Linked DNA regions of Homo sapiens. The protein of the gene in region 2 purifies or fractionates together with the protein of the main gene of each other region. This does not show direct contact. Each region holds a gene or a part of one and is shown on either strand. Other genes may lie near its edges.

What was found.
Region 1: the proteins of ANXA5 (region 2) and PCK2 fractionate together in Homo sapiens (co-fractionation; one large-scale study listed by BioGRID). This does not show direct contact.

Annotation. Positions count from the first base shown.
Region 1 is NC_000014.9:24,100,735-24,104,387, reverse strand, and holds the end of PCK2 (phosphoenolpyruvate carboxykinase [GTP], mitochondrial isoform 1 precursor), read right to left. Parts: exon of another isoform or gene 3,635-3,653; intron 1,636-3,634; coding exon 1,498-1,635; intron 1,229-1,497; coding exon 1,133-1,228; intron 879-1,132; coding exon 424-878; 3' UTR 263-423; downstream 1-262. UniProt on the Homo sapiens protein: Mitochondrial phosphoenolpyruvate carboxykinase that catalyzes the conversion of oxaloacetate (OAA) to phosphoenolpyruvate (PEP), the rate-limiting step in the metabolic pathway that produces glucose from lactate and other precursors derived from the citric acid cycle.
Region 2 is NC_000004.12:121,676,434-121,680,086, forward strand, and holds part of ANXA5 (annexin A5), read right to left. Parts: exon of another isoform or gene 2,062-3,653; coding exon 1,982-2,061; intron 1,518-1,981; coding exon 1,461-1,517; intron 1-1,460. UniProt on the Homo sapiens protein: This protein is an anticoagulant protein that acts as an indirect inhibitor of the thromboplastin-specific complex, which is involved in the blood coagulation cascade.

The DNA.
Region 1 (3,653 bases), on a different chromosome or scaffold from region 2:
AAAGTGCTGGGATTACAGGCGTGAACCACCACACCCAGCCTCACCATTTTTTTTTTTTTAAGAACTCAGGACATAGAGTGGATAGTGCCTTCTCCCAGCAATTCCTATGTCTGTGACCCAGTGCTAGAGCTACCTGTAAAACAGATCTTTGATTGTGCCAGGCTGTGCTTCTTCTAGGGGCTGGAAGAAGATGATTGTGAGACAGGTGTTAGAGGGAAGCCTGTGAAGATAGGTGGGAAATGAAAACAGCACAAATCTTGTGTAAAATAGATAAGCATCTCTTATTATTGGACAGTCTTTGTGGGAAGGTCTATGGCACATTGAAGATGTTAGTTAATATCAAATTGCTCATATTTTCTGCAAGGTGCCTTCCCTATTCCCAGATGAGGGTGCTATGTCCTCTTGCTAGACTAGGGCCTCAGGTCACATTTTGTGCACACGTCTCTCCAGGGCCTCAAGCTCAGCCAACACCTCTTTGGGCAGATCCTGGTTGACCTGCTCTGTCAGGTAGCTCCGAATGTCACGAACCTCCTGTTCCCAGAAGTCCTTGGGGAGGGAGAACAGCTGAGTGGTGTCTATAGCTCTGAGGCCGCTGAGATCCAAGGCTCCTTCCTTTGGCACCAGCCCAATGGGTGTCTCTCGGGCACTGTCCTCCCCCTCTAACCGCCGGCAGATCCAGTCTAGCACCCGAGCATTCTCCCCAAAGCCTGGCCACAGGAAGTGCCCTGCCTCGTCACGCCGGAACCAGTTGACATGGAAGATACGGGGCAGCTGGGCCCCCTTGCGCCCTTCCATGCTCAGCCAGTGTTCCAGGTAGTGCCCGAAGTTGTAGCCAAAAAAGGGCCGCATGGCAAATGGGTCGTGCATGATGATCTTCCCTGGGGGGGAAGCAAGATGGGTAAGGAATCTTCCTTCTCACTGGGGTAGGGAAGGGCACCCTGCATCCAGTTGGAGGAAGCTGTGAAAGGCTTATGGTTCTGAATATCTTCAGGGATGGGGAAAAGATAGAAGTGGGAAGAGGTGGGGCCATATCAGACTCCAGGGGTGGACAAAAGGAAGGTCTGGCTCAGGAAGGGAGAGAGGACGTGCTGTGTGCACACACAGGAGAGGGAGGAATGGTGAGGGTGCTCACCTTTGTGTTCTGCTGCAGCAGTGGACTCAGAGCGCATGGCGCTGCCCACAAACACCCCATGACGCCAGTTGAAGGCCTCGTATACCAGGGGTACCCCTAGATCACCAATGAACAGAGTCACAGGCAGCCCTTTTCTTTGGACCCTAACTCCAGCCCTTCTGGTGAGCTTGACTGGTACTCTCTCTCCTAAGACCTCGGCTATCCCATTTTCAGACCCTTTGCCTCCTCCCAAGTTTGCATTCACCAGGGGAGAACTCTGGAGAAAGGTGAGATCCAGGCTGAGGCTCTGGATCAGAGGGAGGGAGGTAGGCCCTAATACAGAGATAGCCCTTTTGCCAAGAACATGGAGCTCATATGTTGTTTACCTTTGGGTCTGCGGCCACCAAAGATGATGGCGTCAATGGGGACACCCTCTGGGGCCTCCCAGGCTGGGTCCATGATGGGGCACTGGCGAGCCGGGGCACAAAATCGAGAGTTGGGATGTGCACAGGGCTCCTTGTCACCTGGCAGAGGAAATACAAACACTATTATTTCCAAGGTCATGTCGACCCCCAACACACACATACATGGGCACACATTCTTGCAGGGTTCTTTTTTTTTTTTTGCCTCATCAGCTGCCTAGAACCTTGTGTGATAAGGAGCAGAGAGAGGGGAGCCAGGGCATCTCCAAGAGCTCAGGTTGTTTAGCCATGAAGGTGCGGCCAGCTGAGCTATGTGAGAAAAGAGTGGGAGAGGAATTGGGGTTTGGCAGGGCACTAATGTTTGTGCCAAGCTACTGGCACTTGGCACTGACCAGGGCTCAAGGGAATGGGGTTAGATATGGGCATAAGGTTATAATAATTTTTCCCCCAGAAACTATTTCATTATTTGTGAGATTATTATTTAAATGAATACCCAAACCTAAAGCAAAAACTGAGAATGTCAGCTTAGTACTTCAGACAATTGACTTTCCGTCAGCAAACCGGGGAAGACAGGTTCTCCTAAGTTATCCAAATGCAAATAGGAATTTATTTTATCTTTTTATTTTTGAGGCAGAGTCTTGCTCTGTTGCCCAGGCTGTAGTGCAGTGGTGCAATCTTGGCTTACTGCAACCTCCGCCTCCCAGGTTCAAACAATTCTCCTACCTCAGCCTCCCCAGTAGCTGGGATTACAGGCACCCACCACCATGCCTGGCTGATTTTTTTGTATTTTTAATAGAGATGGGGTTTCACCATGTTGGCCAGGCTGGTTTCAAACTCCTGACCTTAACTGATCTGCCCACCTTGGCCTCCCAAAGTAGTAGGATTACAGGCATGAGCCACTGCGCCTGGCCTGATTTTATTTACTTAATTAATTTAGTTATGAGACGGAGTCTCACTCTGTCACCAGGCTGGAGTGCAGTGGCATGATCTTGTCTCACTGCAACCTCTGCCTCCTGGGATCAAGCAATTTTCCTGCCTCCTGAGTAGCTGGGATTACAGGCATGAGCCACCATGCCTGGCTAATTTTTGTATTTTATTGGAGACGGGGTTTTGCCATGTTGCCAGGCTGGTCTCGAACTCCTGACCTCAGGTGATCCAACTGCCTCGGCCTCCCAAAGTGCTGGGATTACAGATGTGAGTCACTGTGCCCTGCAAGGAATTGATTTTAAAGCTAACAACATGTTGGTGATTTCCCTGCCCTGCTTAGACCCTGATGAAGTGATAGGGCTGGAAAAATAGAGATAGGGATATCACATGGGTAGGGATAACCTCAGGAGCCCAGGTCACACTTGGCACCTTCAGGTGTCCTGGAGGGGGGTTGGGACTAAGTCAGTGGCACATGTATGAAGCACCACTGTGTGGCCCCTGAGTGGACATGGTGCCTTCTCTGCTGGAGGTTGCTGGTCAGACCTGGGGAGTGGGGAAGCCACGGGGCCAAAATCCCCACCCTCTCCCATCCGCCAGCTTCTGCCCGCCATTGCAGATAAGAGCCATCCTTCTTCAGCACCCAGTGCAGAATCCTAACACAGGGTATTATTCTGGGAATTGAAGCTGGGGACAAGATGCCCTAGTTATGCCCCCAAATCTGGAGATGATGAAAGGGTTGGGGAACTAGCCTGTGGGGAAAGATGAAAGTTTCTTGGATTTCTCAGTTGGGTGGGAAGGCTGAGGGGGGCTTAATGATGGTGTTAGTAAAAATAAAGGGTGATTAGATGAAGCAAGGAGGGTGACTGCTAGGCCAGCCTGGCAAACCTGAATATAGGCTTCAGTGACTACAAGGCCAGCCTCCCCTCCCATGCTCTTCTTTGCCCCTGCCTCTTGGTGTCTGGACTGCCTGACTGCAGAAGGCCATGGAAAGAATACTGAAGGTCCAGAGTGCAGGGCTGAGGGAGAGGTGGGACTCCCAGGCGCCCAGGGTAATGACAGGATTCAGAAACTAGCTTCTGGGAAAGACTCAAGCACTGACCTGATTTTGTTTGTAGGAAGGATTGGGGTGAATGCTTTGGAGGGACAGGGGAAGGGTGACGGTAACAATACTGACCTTTAGACAGTGGTTATTA
Region 2 (3,653 bases):
AGGAATTCCAACTCCACTGCTATTCAGTGGAAGCCATGGGTTTGTTTCTTTATCCATAAAAGGGAAATTGCCCCTTTCTGGTAGAGTTATGTGCTCATTCATTCATCAGTTATTTACTGAGCACCTACTCTATGCCAGAAGCTGAGGATACAATTGAACTGACAGCTCAGGGGGCCCAGGAAGGCAGTGAAGTAAATAGATGGCTTCCAGAGAACGTGGCAAGAACTGTGACAGGAAGCCTGGGGGCGGGGGGGGGTATGGTTTTCCCTGTGAGGGGCACCTAACTCTAAAGTATCTAAGCTGAAGACTGACTCTTGAAGAGGACTCAGGTGAAGCGGGGTGGGAGGGGCAAGAGGGCAGAGAGAGCATGTGAGAGAGGCTGGAGGCATAAGTAAACAACACACAGATAACAAAGGGGCTTGTAACCCATTCAGGAACCCGGACTTTATCCTGAGGGCAATGGAACCACCAGAGTCTGAAGGGGCTGGACACAATTGGCTTGCATTTTCTAAGACAGAGTGAAGCAAGAGTCAAATACTGCACAGAGAGCCCTCGGTAAACATTCAGTTCTTTTTTTCTCTCCAGCTAGACAGAGATGACAGCATTCTGAAACCATTATAAAATCAACCTACCCAAAAGAATAACCGCTCTCCTCTTTCCTGTTAGCAAAGTGAGATCGCATATCCATGGGTTGTTCCACTGGAGGAATGAATATGGCTCTTCCTTTTTCAATGATACATGACAAACAACCAAGAATTGTATATTCTCTTAATTGAAACATGTGACCAGAAAGAGGTCTATGATTGGTGGTTCTAGGAACCCAAGTAATTCCTTTATTACCAATTTCCAGTTTTCAGCTCTCATGTTTCAAATTTCCTTTCCTATATTTTAATAACTGTTTTATTAACCAGACTGAGACTTTATAGGGGTTTATAAGTCACTTAAGAGGAAATTTTCATTTGGAGTCACTAAAAAGCTGCTGACAGAAGACCAATCCTACTTAAAATTCTGTCGAAGGAAATGCAGAGAAATTTCCTAATACCAAAATAACTTGTCATCTCTTATGTAATTAAACACCACTTACTGTTAAATACTTTATTCTTTCTTCTTTATCTTCTCCTGCTAAGAGACCCACTGCATAATTGGCAGTGGAAGTAATAACACTGTTTTTTGGTAAAATTCTCTATTTTGTGAATGTTCAATAATCACAAAAAAAAACATGTCTAGTTGGAACTCACTATATAATTTATTTTATTTCGTTTCAGCTTTAAGGTAAAATATTTTGCTGACCAGGTCAGAATAAGAAAAAGCTACTTATGTAGGTCTTATGCTATGTAAATAACCCATTAACAAGATTATCACTAGAAGCTATTACAACATACATTGTGATTTTTCATTACCATGAATTATTTCTTCATTTCTACAGCATAATAAAGTCATCATATCCTGGTGTCACTCACCTGAGCATCTTGTTCAACTTGAGCTTCATCAATTCCAGCATCAGGGTCTCTGTTAGCCTATGAGAGGTAATATGTCACATTACTGAACTATAGAGCATTCTCATTCAAAAGGAAAAATGGTTCCACCTGATGGTTATTCAATAACACTCTTTCTCTAGGAATAATATGCTTTTATTAAGATCAATCCTGCACTATTTCACGTTATCATCACCCAGCACTGTCCAAAACCAATAATGACCCTACTGATTTTAAATTCTATGAAAGAACAAGATACCGCTATCATTCTATGAAAGGAACAAGATACTACTATCTAAAACATGTATGAGTTAGCTGTTAAGAATTTAGACCAGATATTCTGAAACACAAACAAGCACAGGCAACATACAGTCAGAATCATCGCAGTAAGAATCAGCAAGTACCACAAATTATTAAAAGAATTTTAAGTGACCTTACTTAACTAGATTCAGCCCAGTCCAACTTCAGGCTTTTTAATCAAACTGTAATTAATCTCCACGCAATACCTGAAGGAGAACCACCAACATCCGCTGGTAGTACCCTGAAGTGTCCCCCACCACGTCATCTTCCAGGCTTGAGCCATATTCTGCAACAAAATAATTTCATACTTATTTACATCTTCTTTCAACTAGAAAAGTAATCTTGCCCCATTAATCAAATGAAAGCGATGTAAAAGAAGAAATAATTATATTTGGTTAACATAAATTCCCTCTATTCCATCTCTGAATGCTCTAAGCAAATGCTTTCAGTGAGTGGTTGGACAAAAATGAATTAAAGTCTCCCAAAGGCACTCAATTCAAACTTAAATCAAGACTCAGCCATTTAGAAATTCTCTCGACCAATGTAGTCATTAATCTATAGATACATGATGGTACTGGAAAGTCTCCAAAACACAATCAATCATAAGCTTAAACTCTGTTTTGCTTTCTTTCAAATCTTTTATATGGTTAGCTTCCAAATGTCTTCTATCTCTAATATTCTGAGATTTATTTCTTTGGGCATGGCCATCACTCCTAATAAGGTATTTTTCCTCTGCAGAAATAAAGTTAACTCTTGAGAGACAGCAATGATATTTTAAAGTAGGCCCCCCTCCCACCTCTATTTCCAGCTGCTCAATGTAAGCCCATATAAAAGGGGAGAACTGGGATCTACAAGAGTCTACAAGTCTTTCTCACTACTCTCAAACAGATGCTATTAAAGGAAAGGAGGCCTTACTCTAAGGTATTTAAATATTTAATTATTATGCAAAAGCAAACGAACTTTAAAAGCCTGAAACTTCTATTTTAAAAGGCCCAGAAGAGTTACATGTTTATTTCAACAAGTTACCCAAATACAAAACCTTGTAGGAATCTTTAATTCTTTCTTCTACACCAACACCTGTAAATATTAACCATTAAATCCTATCACGTTTCTCCTGTCCCTGATTTATCCTCCTCACACCTCTCACTCACCTAGGTTGGGCCACAATTCCTAAATACCTAGCTTACCTCCCACACACATAACTATCCAATTAGCCTCTCAATTCAAATCTCCTTCCTCCCTCAATTGTTCCTTCAGCACTCCACTGCTCATTCAGGAATTTACAGTGCCTGTGAATTAAGTCCAAATTCCTAATCCAGTCATGCAAAACCATCTATATCTGAGCCTAACCTCGCTTGTTCCATTTACCTCCCACAATGGACATGCACACATCCTCCACAGCAGCCAGGCCCTCTCCGTCCCTCAATACACTCTCCACAGTCCAGTCTCCATGCCATTAAAGACAGGCAGTACCTCACCCAAAAATATCTTTTCTACCTACTCAAAATGCACCTAGTCTTTTTTTCCCAGCTTTATTGAGTTATGATGGACAAATAAAAATTGTATATATTTAAGGTATACACCATGATGTTTTCATATATGTGTACGTTGTGAAATGATTACCACAATCAAGTTAATCAGCATATCCATCACTTCATATAGTCTATATTTTTGTGTGTGGTGAGGACATTTAAAATATACTGTATTCACAAATTTCAAGCATATAATAGTTATACTTTCACTATAGTCACCACGCTGTTCATGAGATCCCCAGAACTTATTCATCCTGCCTAACTAAAATCGTGTATGCTTTGACCAATATTTCACCAGTCCCTTCTCCCATTCACCCCACCCCTACACCCTAGCAAACACTGTTTT